Linked DNA regions of Homo sapiens. The protein of the gene in region 1 purifies or fractionates together with the protein of each later gene. This does not show direct contact. Each region holds a gene or a part of one and is shown in the gene's direction. Other genes may lie near its edges. The genes, in order: FBH1 and RPA3.

Region 1 (7,306 bases):
CCTCTCTCCCGAGTCACTGTCCTAAAGTGTAAATTTGATTGTGTAATGACCCTGCTTTAAAAATTGGATGAGGCCGGGCGCGGTGGCTGACGCCTGTAATCCTACCACTTTGGGAGGCCGAGGCAGGTGTATTGCCTGAGCTCAGGAGTTCTAGACCAGCCTGGGCAACACGGTGAAATCCTATCTCTACTAAAATACAAAAAATTAGCTGGCTGTGGCGGTGTGCACCTGTAGTCCCAGCTACTCGGAAGACTGAGGCAGGAGAATCACTTGAACCTGGGAGGCGGAGGTTGCAATGAGCCGAGACTGTGCCATTGTACCCCAGCCTGGACCACAGACAGAGTGAGACTCTGTCTGAAAACAAAAAACAAACAAACAAACAAAATTGGATGATACCTTGAAGCCCCTACCTGATAAAGTCCAATTTCTTTTTTTGAAGCCCAATTTCTTTATCATTATGTGTAAGGACCTTTGTAGTCTGTGGCTCCAAATTCCTTTTCCAGCCTTATCTCCTGTCATTCCTCATCAGGGAACCTCTTGTTTTGATGAAGCCCAGCTTTCCTGCCACTCTAGTGCATTGTTAATGCCTCTGTATTTTTGCACACATTGTTTCCTTCCGCCTTACTGAATCCCATGATTCTTTCAAGACTCAACTCTTCGTGAAGCCTTTTTCAACTTGCCTAACTCTATTTATGTTTCTTTACTATCATAACACTTCATGCATGCATTTATGTAGTTGTTATATTACTTTATCTTTAGTAACTTGTGTTTGTTTTGGTAGCTGCCTTATGGGTAGGCTTATTCACTTTTGTATCACTAATGTCTAAAATAGCATTTAACACCAAGGATACCATAAGACAAAGCTCTCATGGAGTTTAAAATGAATCTGGGACATAGCAGATACGTAAAAGTAGTTGTGGAATGAATTGACTGTAGAAAAAGCCTTTCAAATATATAAAATTATATTCTAGACCATAAGTAGTGATCTTTCTCTTGTTTTTCAAACATTCCTTTCTTTCTTTAGGAAAAACATAGAACGGAAAGCCCAGCCCATCCTTGTTGGCTGTCATACACGAGTGCTGTCTCCAAGGGAGTCACAGGTGTCTCAGATGTGAGAGGATCCCGGGGAGATTGAGCTTACTGCCTGGGAACTTTTGGATTTCTGGAGAAGCAGGCTGTGGTAGCCTGGCTCTGCGTCAGTGAATACCTGGGAAAGGAGCTGGAGCTCTATTTTGCTTGCTTTCTGCATTCGTTTCTTTTAGAGCTAATGGGGACACAATATTTTGAAGTTTTTCCATTTCGGGTCTACAGCATTTAGTGGTATTTTCCTTATAGTTATGTTTTCCAAATACTTCTCAATTTCTTTGGTTCTGACATTTCACAATGATTTTAAAAAAATGTAATATGGAAATTAAACTTGAGGTTTTCAGAAGCTGCTTTCAAGGTGTCTAGATACAGAGTGAAGAATGTCACAGTAGGAAGTGCACTGGACTAGGGGAGTCAGGAGACCCGGGTTCTTGTGTTGGCACCATCACTCATGAGCTACGAGGTGACTTCAGGCAAGTCCTCTCTGAGCCCCAGCTTAATCATGGCACAATTGTAGGATTGCTTTGAGGGTCAGACGAGAATATAGGAAAGAACTGCAAAAGCTGTAAAGCACTTAGGAGCTCTGGGAGAGTTGAGAGCTTCAAAGCCAAGGAAGACAGCCCACACTTCAGAAGAAGTGCTGCAGCTGCACATTTGTTCGTTTAATCAGGAATTGTTTATGAAGCAATGTGTGTTACATGCTGGGTGTGAGTACCTCTCTACTCCTTCCCACTAGAGCAGAGAGCTTTTAGTCTGGGATGGAAGACGTATTAAATACAGACTTATACAAATAATTGTTATTAATATAATATGTAATACAGTGCAATTAAAAACAATAATTCATATAAGACACATGTTAAATGCACACTTACACAAAGAATTGTTACAAGTATCTCGGGTGTACAGGGCGGTTTTATTCCTGCGAAGTGCTTCCTGGCTTGAGTGAATACTTTTATGGTGCTGGAGTTGAGAGATAACACAGTTAACTGTTGAAATTGGGCCATTCCCGTTTCACAGGCTGCCATTGGACCTGTCAAGTGCCTGAGTCATGTGATAATGGGCTACATTGCGCAGGGCCCCTGGGCCATCTCCACAGGAGATGCCAGAGGACGAGTGCCCACTTGCTGGTCTTCACAGAGCACGCTGAAAGTAAGAGGCATGTGGGAAACTGACCAGGGCGGTTAGCTGACTCCAAAATTGTCCAGATTAGCAAAACTGCCCTCTGTGGATCTTTGTTAAAGTTGGGTATGGTATTGTAGCAGTTTCTCCAGTCAGGTACCTTGTACTAGCGAGTCAACTTGATTTTTTTTTGAAAAAGCAATTATTTAATAATAATATTTACTTCCAGGAATTCTAGGTACTTATTGTCTTCATCTTGTCCATTTAGGTCTGTAACCTAAAAGTTTTAAAGGACTTTTTGGTATGAATTCTGATTAGTAAAGGTAGAGGAAGAAAGGAAATTATTTGGTATCCATTTCAAATGATCCTGAATGGTTAGGGTAAGCTTTGCTGCAGTGACAAATAGATCCAGACATGTAATGGCCTCACAATAGACGTTTATTTTTCAATCCCATAACAATCTAAGGAGGCTACAGGTCATGGTGGTGGTTGGAGTTTGTGTGTGTAGGTGTGGGGAGGGAGGGTTCTTTTTAAAGCAGTAGTCCGAGGATTGAGGCTGCTGGAGGCTCTTCTATTTTGAACACCCGGCTTCTAAGGATGTCCTGGGAATCAGCTTCCCAGTTAAGGGGAAGAGGAGAAGAGTGGAGGGCAGGTCTGGAAGAGGCGTGTGCTGCTGCTGTTCCCATTGCATTGGCTGGCACCCAGCGGTAAGGCGACATCCACCTGCACGCAGGACTGGGAAGTATAGCCCAGCTGTGTGCTCAGGGAGAAGAGCAACAACATTCTTTGCAGCAAAACCTGAAACACTCAGTTTCACTTTCTGTGACTTGTTTTGTAAGTTGTTTTCAATAAAGAAGATTAAAAAAAGAAGCCAGGCAAATGAAAGCATAGGGGAGGAGTGGCAGACACGCAGTTCTCACTCTGCGACTGCAGGAGTGTCTCTTGTTTCCCCCTTGTGCACTTTGAGGAATGAGGGGATAGACGTGGTCCCTTCCTTTTAGTTCCCCGTAGCAGAGTTCTTGTAAGGACTCGTTCAGGGGAGACTGATAAGGGTCTCATCTCCATCGGGGGACCTCACCAGGGCATGGAGTGGGTCAGAGTGGGCTGGGAGGGGATAGACTGTCATCAAGGTGAAGAGATTTGAGGGGTGGTGGAGGGCTAAACTCCAGATCTGACCACTTCAAAGTCAGCAAAGGCCAGGAATTGCTGGGGTAGGGCTAAAAGCTGAGGGTTAGCAAAGAGAGGTGGGTCCTGGAATGGGGACCCCTGGGGTGGAGGACAGAGAAGTCACACTGTTAGAAAGCCGTCACAGAAAAGGCAGTGTGGGAATGAGCTTACTTAAGCCTAGGGAATATTCATTTGACAAAATGGTTTGTGTACATTCTGGTTTTTCTACCCTGACACCTGAGGGCTCTAACACATTTCTGTTGGTTATTGTGGAAGAGAGTGTCCAAGGGTGGGAGCACAGATGCCGAATTTGGTGTGTAGGAGACCAATTTCAACAACTCTGGGGGCCTTGTAGAGTTTGCAAAGCCCCGTAAGTGATTCTAATCTCTCTGCACCCACAAGAACCCCTAGTTTAGACACAGCTTCCCTTTATCTGTGGTCATTCACCACAGATAATTTCATTCCCTAAAGAATCACAAGCAGCTTCTAACAGTAAATGCCCTTTACAGGAGGTGTAAAGTGCACTTGCTGTGTAGAGAGGGAGGCATACCATGAGCTTTGCGTGACTCAGGGAAGGAGGATTTTTATGGAAGAAGTAGCATTTGAGCATTCTTATTTTGATAAAGTTATTTTTGAACTGCTTTTTAAAAAGGTATATTAATAAGAATAGAAGGGTGATTAGAATTCTAGTGTAGTGTTTTGGTTTTATTTTTAACCATTTAGCAAGAACATTAATGCTATTAAAACTGATGTGCCTTAGGAGACCCTCAGATTGGTGTGGTAGTCACATATTTCTTCTGACGTTTCTGTTGCTAGGTGTTGACATAGATTTAGAGATAGGTGTTGTCACCCTCAATGTGGGTGGCTTGAGTACTTACATATATATTGTCTCATTCTCTGAATTCAGCATGGCAGGTTATTATAATCCTCGTTTTCATAAGCAAGGCTTTGGCGATGAATATACCTGCCAAGTGTGGGTCTTCTCCTGCACCCCACAGCCTCGGAGGGGCTTTAAGGGAACATTAAGTGTAAAGCGTGTAATTGCAGAGGAGGTGGACACAGGGCTCCTGCGGAGGAGGTGGACACAGGGCTCCTGGCTCCCAGTTCAGAGCATCACAGCACCTCTCTCTGAGACCAGAGATACAGGTTAGTTTTCCTGACCTCCAGCTGACGTTAGAAAAGTTATTTTTGATACATATATCCAATAAGTCCAAGGGGTGGGGAATCCAATAAAAGTGTTAATAAAAATCCAATAAAAGTACCAGCTCTCCCGCCAGCCAAACTATGGCTGGTAACGCCATTCCAGTTATATAGGTTACTTATCTTAGTGCACAGAGGCCAGATCACCAGTCTAAGCGCCCCTCCCCCGGTACCGAACCTCAGTTCCTCCCAGGGTGGCTTCATGCCAGAACATATTGGAATATACCGGGACTCCCTTGAAGCAGAACACAGTGTTCCAACACTCCCATTAGCACTTTCTGTTACTCCTGTGTCTTTGTTAGATTTCTGCAAACACTTAATCTTCGCAACAAGCATTTTGGATTCAGACGTATTTTCTGAGATAAATACATAAATAAAAATCTATCCTGTTCATATTACCTTTTCCAAAGCAGTTCCCTTTGGGACTGAACATTTTTGATGTTCTGTCATCAGTCTGTTGTGAGCTACCAGGGAGGTCTCCCTGTGGGAGCAGTTCTGTAGTATATTCCTAGGGATTAGAGTGTAGGCTCCTGGACCTCCCAGCCGAATTCTTCTCCCTGCTCCTCATCCTTCTTGACCCACTCAGTATTCACAGAACGTGTGCTGCCTCAGTCCATTTGGGCTGGTATAACAAAATACCATAACTGGGCCGCTTATAAGCAGAAGTCTCTCTCACTCACAGATCTGGAGGCTGGAAGTCTAAGATCGAGGTGCCAGCAGATTTGGTGTCTGGTGAGGGCCGCTTCCTGGTTCATAGACGGCACCTTCTCTTTGTGTCCTCACATGGTGGCAGGAGTAAGGGAGCTCTCTGAGACCTCTCTTATAAGGGCACTAATCCCATTTGTGGGGACTCCACCCTTGTGACCTTATCACTTCCTAGAACCGCATTTTTTTTTTTTCTTTTGAGACACAATCTCTCTCCATTGTCCAGGCTGGAGTGCAGTGGCACAATCTTGGCTCACAGCAACCTCCACCTCCCGGGTTCAAGTGATTCTTGGGCCTCAGCCTCCTGAGTAGCTGGGGTTACAGGTGCCCGCCACCACACCTGGCTAATTTTTATATTTTTAGTAGAGATGGGGTTTCACTATGTTGCCAGGCTGGTCTTGAACTCTAGACCTCAAGTGATCCACCCACCTTGGCCTCTCAAAGTGCTGGGATTACAGGCATGAGCCACTGTGCCTGGCCCAGAGCCCCACCACTTCATACCGTCACCTTGCGGGTGAGGATTTCAGTGTGTGAATTTCAGGGACATGAACGTTGAGTACATGGCACAGACTATATGTCTGGCCCCACGCTATCTACATACAGAGTTACAGCAGTGAACCAGGTGGGCTAGCTGCTTACCTTGGGGCATGCTTACTGTCTTTTCGACTCTCAGGCATGTGATGAGACATCTCCATCTCATTGATGGTCATTATCAATGCACCGTTGTTACAGTGAGGTGGCTGCAGAAGGCTTCGATAAAGCCATTCTTACATACTTCACAAAAAACGTTCCAGGGTTCACCCTGCATGTGTAGGTACCTCTTCTATACAAATCTGCCAGCCTCTGTTTGTAGCTGTTTCCAAAAGCCAAATGTAGAAGGCCATCATAGATTTGGGTGGGCATCAGACCCTTCAACTGAGCCTGATTTTCTCACTGGTTATGTGCCTTTTCGTTGACTTTCAGAAGCCTTCGGTACCTGACACACCATTCAGCTAAGCAGGCCTGCAGCTGGCCTGAGGTCCTGGGTCTCAGATATGAGTGGTTTGATGTTGATCTTGCTCCTTTGTGATTTTTTGTTTTGTTTGTTTTGTTTTGTTTTGTTTTTTTCCTTCATGATTTTATCCATGAAAGCTTTTCTTCTCCAGGCCATTGTGGCAGTAGATGTTCACCTCCTATTTAAGTGAGATATTCACTCTTGGTAACTTTCTTTAGTGAGTGTCTCCAGTTATTTATTTTATTTTTTTCCTTTTTTCCTTACCCTTCATCAGGACACATAGTGTCTCCAGTTCTAATTGTAGATACTGTACTGACCAGCTCTGAAGCAATTGGGACTGTTTGAGGAGAGAGAAAAGCAGGCATGAGTCCACTCTGTTGGATCTATAGGGCCTGTGGATTTGCTGCCCGGAGTCCTGCAGCTGCTCCTGCTGTTGAGCATTGTGTGGGGCACCTCACCCAGGATTTTCGGGTGTTCTGGAAGCCATGTTGCCGCTCTACCTGTCTCTTTTGCAGATATGCCCAGAGGTCCCCATTCAGGCAAAATAGTCCTTGCGTTATATTTGTAATATGAAGGGTTTTGAACACAGGAAATAAAATTTCATCTTATTTTTTAAAAAGAGAACAACAAGACTTTGTTTTCTTTCCAATGTAGAAAACTTCAAATTTAGTTTTTAATGTAGAGAAACTTCACATTCATATTTTGTTTCTGTGTGAATAAGATGATTTGCTGTTGTTTTCCTCTAAATAAACTGGTCAGCAACATTACAGAACCAGCACAAACCAGCACAAAACCATCAAAGTGGAGGGGGTGTTTGCTTTTCTGTTCATAATAAGCGAGACATGTTACTGGTTAGTTTAGAAGGTATTTCCAGTAATACAGAATTGGCTGTATTTGGGCTGCTAATACACTTCCTGCTTTGCCATTAGGTGGCATCTTTATAATTTGAAGGATATTTCAATGTCTTAGGCAGGCTACTCACATAAGCCTTGTTAAATAGAGGAAACAGGTAAGTTTGTATGCATGCAGTTGGAT
Region 2 (2,896 bases), on another chromosome or scaffold:
GGTTTTTTGTTTCGTTTTTGTTTTTTTGTTTTGAGACAGGGTCTCACTCTGTTACCCCGGGTGGAATGCAGTGGCACCATCATGGCGCACTGCAGCCTTAGCCTCCCAAGATCAAGTTGCTCCCATGTCAGCCTCCCCAGTAGCTGGGACTACAGGCATGCTTAACCATGCCTGGCTAATTTTTGTTTTGTTTTGTTTTGTTTTGTTTTGTTTTGTTTTTTGTAAAGATGGCATCTCCCTATGTTCCTCAGGCTGGTCTTGAACTCTCGGTCTCAAGCAATCCTCCTGCCTCGACCAGCCCCTCAAGAGTTTTCGATTTTATTTTATTTTCTATTTTTGTTCATATATTTCCAGTTTTTACTTATTTATGTTTGCATTTTATGTTTAACATACTTAAAACTTTTTTTGGTATTTTGTGAAGACAAATCCATATGCTGTTTGGTTAATGTATACAGAACACATTGTGAAATACAGATTATAGAAGATTCCTCTCATAGGATATTACTGCTTATAGAAATGCTGGACGTTTTCAATAGTGATTTTGTCTTTAACTTGAATTGTAGCTTTGGACTTGAAGCTACTGCTAAAGGTAGCAGGAATTTTAACATGCTGACAGTTAAGTACTCAAACATTTGTTAACAAGTTACATTTTAACTTTTACACTGGTAATTCTTAAAATTACTTTGTTACTTGAAGTGATAGATTAGTAACCTGTATAACAGTTTTCCAAAATAATTGTCAACTGAAAATGTGATATCACCAAATCGATGTCTTGTTCTGTGTCTTAGCTTGATGAAGAAATCTCTGGAATTGTGGAAGTGGTTGGAAGAGTAACCGCCAAGGCCACCATCTTGTGTACATCTTATGTCCAGTTTAAAGAAGATAGCCATCCTTTTGGTAAATAAAGCATTCTAGTATTGACTGGTTTTATGTAATTACATAACATACAGTTTTATATAACTGTATGTAATTACATAACATACAGTTTTATATAACTGTATGTAATTACATAACATACAGTTTTATATAACTGTATGTAATTACATAACATACAGTTTTATATAACTGTATGTAATTACATAACATACAGTTTTATATAACTATGTTTTAACATACATTTTGTATTACATACAAAATTGTATGTATTACATACAATTACATAACATAAACATACAGGAAAACAGTTTTATTTTTAGTTTGATATATATTGGTCTAGAGTTTTAGTACTGCCACATTTTCAATTTCTATAGAATTTTGTGATCGTAAAGGCAAATGGGGGTACATTTTGTTTTGGCCTGCTTTTAAGTAGTGCTTATATATGTAAGAAACTCAGTAAAGATTAATTAATGTTTGTTGAAAGATAATTTTTTTAAATATAACAAAAATAGTATTAGTTTTTTTGTTGTAATATCTGAATTGAAGGAATTGAATAATGCATAACACCCAAAACACTACCAGGCAGAAACTGCCTGTATAATGAACATCAAAATGGATGGTACTCCCATGTCTTTTTTTTGGTGCCACAGTTAAATACAAGAATCCATAATCCATATCTCCATTTTTAGAAACTCACTTCCAAAAGGGTGAGAAAAAGGAAATAGGTAAAAATATCTTAGATAATAATTGATGTTACAACTTTCCATTGTAGATTAAATGTTTGCTTAAATGTTTCTTTCAGATCTTGGACTTTACAATGAAGCTGTGAAAATTATCCATGACTTCCCTCAGTTTTATCCTTTAGGGATTGTGCAACATGATTGATCTTGATGGATTTTCATACGATTGTAAATGAGCTATATTAAAGTCTATTAAAGGAAGCCCTTCTTGTTTGAGGGAGAGATTTCTGTGCTTTCTCATATTTAATTTGCTGTTTTTAAGATATTCCAACCTAGAGTTTTTGATGGAACTGATATATTGACAGTTCTCACCGAAGTCCTTTTATAAAGAATTGCTACTCCAATATATGGTCAGATTAGATGCAAGAATAAAGCAGTTGTCCGAGTCTAAGTTTCTATTTTATTAATAAAAACTAAAATGGTACGTACTATCGGTCATTTCATTTTCATTCTTTTAATCATGTATTCAAGCACAAACTTGAAATTTCATAGCCATAAGGTCAAGATTTAGACCTACCAAATAAAACCTTGGGCCAGCTGTGTTAAGGATTTGCTCACCTTTTCCCAAACTATACCTTGATAATTATTTCCTTGATACCCTACTTACAAAATGAAGTAGATGACATTAAAAAGGCAAACAGAGACTGGCCACGCTGGCTTACTCCTGTAATCCCAGCACCTTGTGAGGCCGAGGCGGGTGGATCACCTAAGGTCAGGAGTTCGAGACCAGCCTCACCAATATGATGAAACCCTGTCTCTACTAAAAATACAAAAATTAGCCGGGCGTGGTGACATGCGCCTGTAATATCAGCTACTCAGGAGGCTGAGACAGGAGAATCACTTGAACCTGGGAGGCGGAGGTTGCGGTGAGCCAAGATTGCACCATTGCACTCCAGCCTAGGCAACAAGAGTGAAGCTCTGTCTCAAAAAAAGGCAAACAGAATCTTACATCTTCTGTAATCTGTGAAGTATCTCTTTTTCTGGCTTGGTTTGGTTTTGTTTTTGTAGAGACAGGATCTCACTCTATTGCCCAGGCTGGAATACGGTTGTGCAATCATAGCTCACTGCAGCCTTGAACCTCTGGGCTCAGTCTCCCAAGTAGCTCAGACTACAGGTGGGCACTACCACGCCCAGCTAGATTTTCCTAAATTTCCGTGTAGAGATGGGGTCTCACTGTGTTTCCCAGGCTGGACTCAAACACCTAGCCTCAAGCAATCCTACCGCCTTAGCCTCCCAAAGTGTTGGGATTACAGGTGTGTAACAACCATGCCCAGCCTTCC

What was found.
Region 2: the proteins of FBH1 (region 1) and RPA3 purify together in Homo sapiens (affinity purification with mass spectrometry; 2 studies listed by BioGRID, with this or other methods). This does not show direct contact.

What each region holds. Positions count from the first base shown.
Region 1 is NC_000010.11:5,892,953-5,900,258, forward strand, and holds part of FBH1 (F-box DNA helicase 1), read left to right. Parts: intron 1-1,024; exon of another isoform or gene 1,025-1,537; coding exon of another isoform or gene 1,538-1,559; exon of another isoform or gene 1,560-2,103; coding exon of another isoform or gene 2,104-2,235; exon of another isoform or gene 2,236-4,106; coding exon of another isoform or gene 4,107-4,518; intron 4,519-7,306. UniProt on the Homo sapiens protein: 3'-5' DNA helicase and substrate-recognition component of the SCF(FBH1) E3 ubiquitin ligase complex that plays a key role in response to stalled/damaged replication forks.
Region 2 is NC_000007.14:7,635,865-7,638,760, reverse strand, and holds the end of RPA3 (replication protein A 14 kDa subunit), read left to right. Parts: intron 1-788; coding exon 789-897; intron 898-1,678; coding exon 1,679-1,761; 3' UTR 1,762-2,243; downstream 2,244-2,896. UniProt on the Homo sapiens protein: As part of the heterotrimeric replication protein A complex (RPA/RP-A), binds and stabilizes single-stranded DNA intermediates that form during DNA replication or upon DNA stress.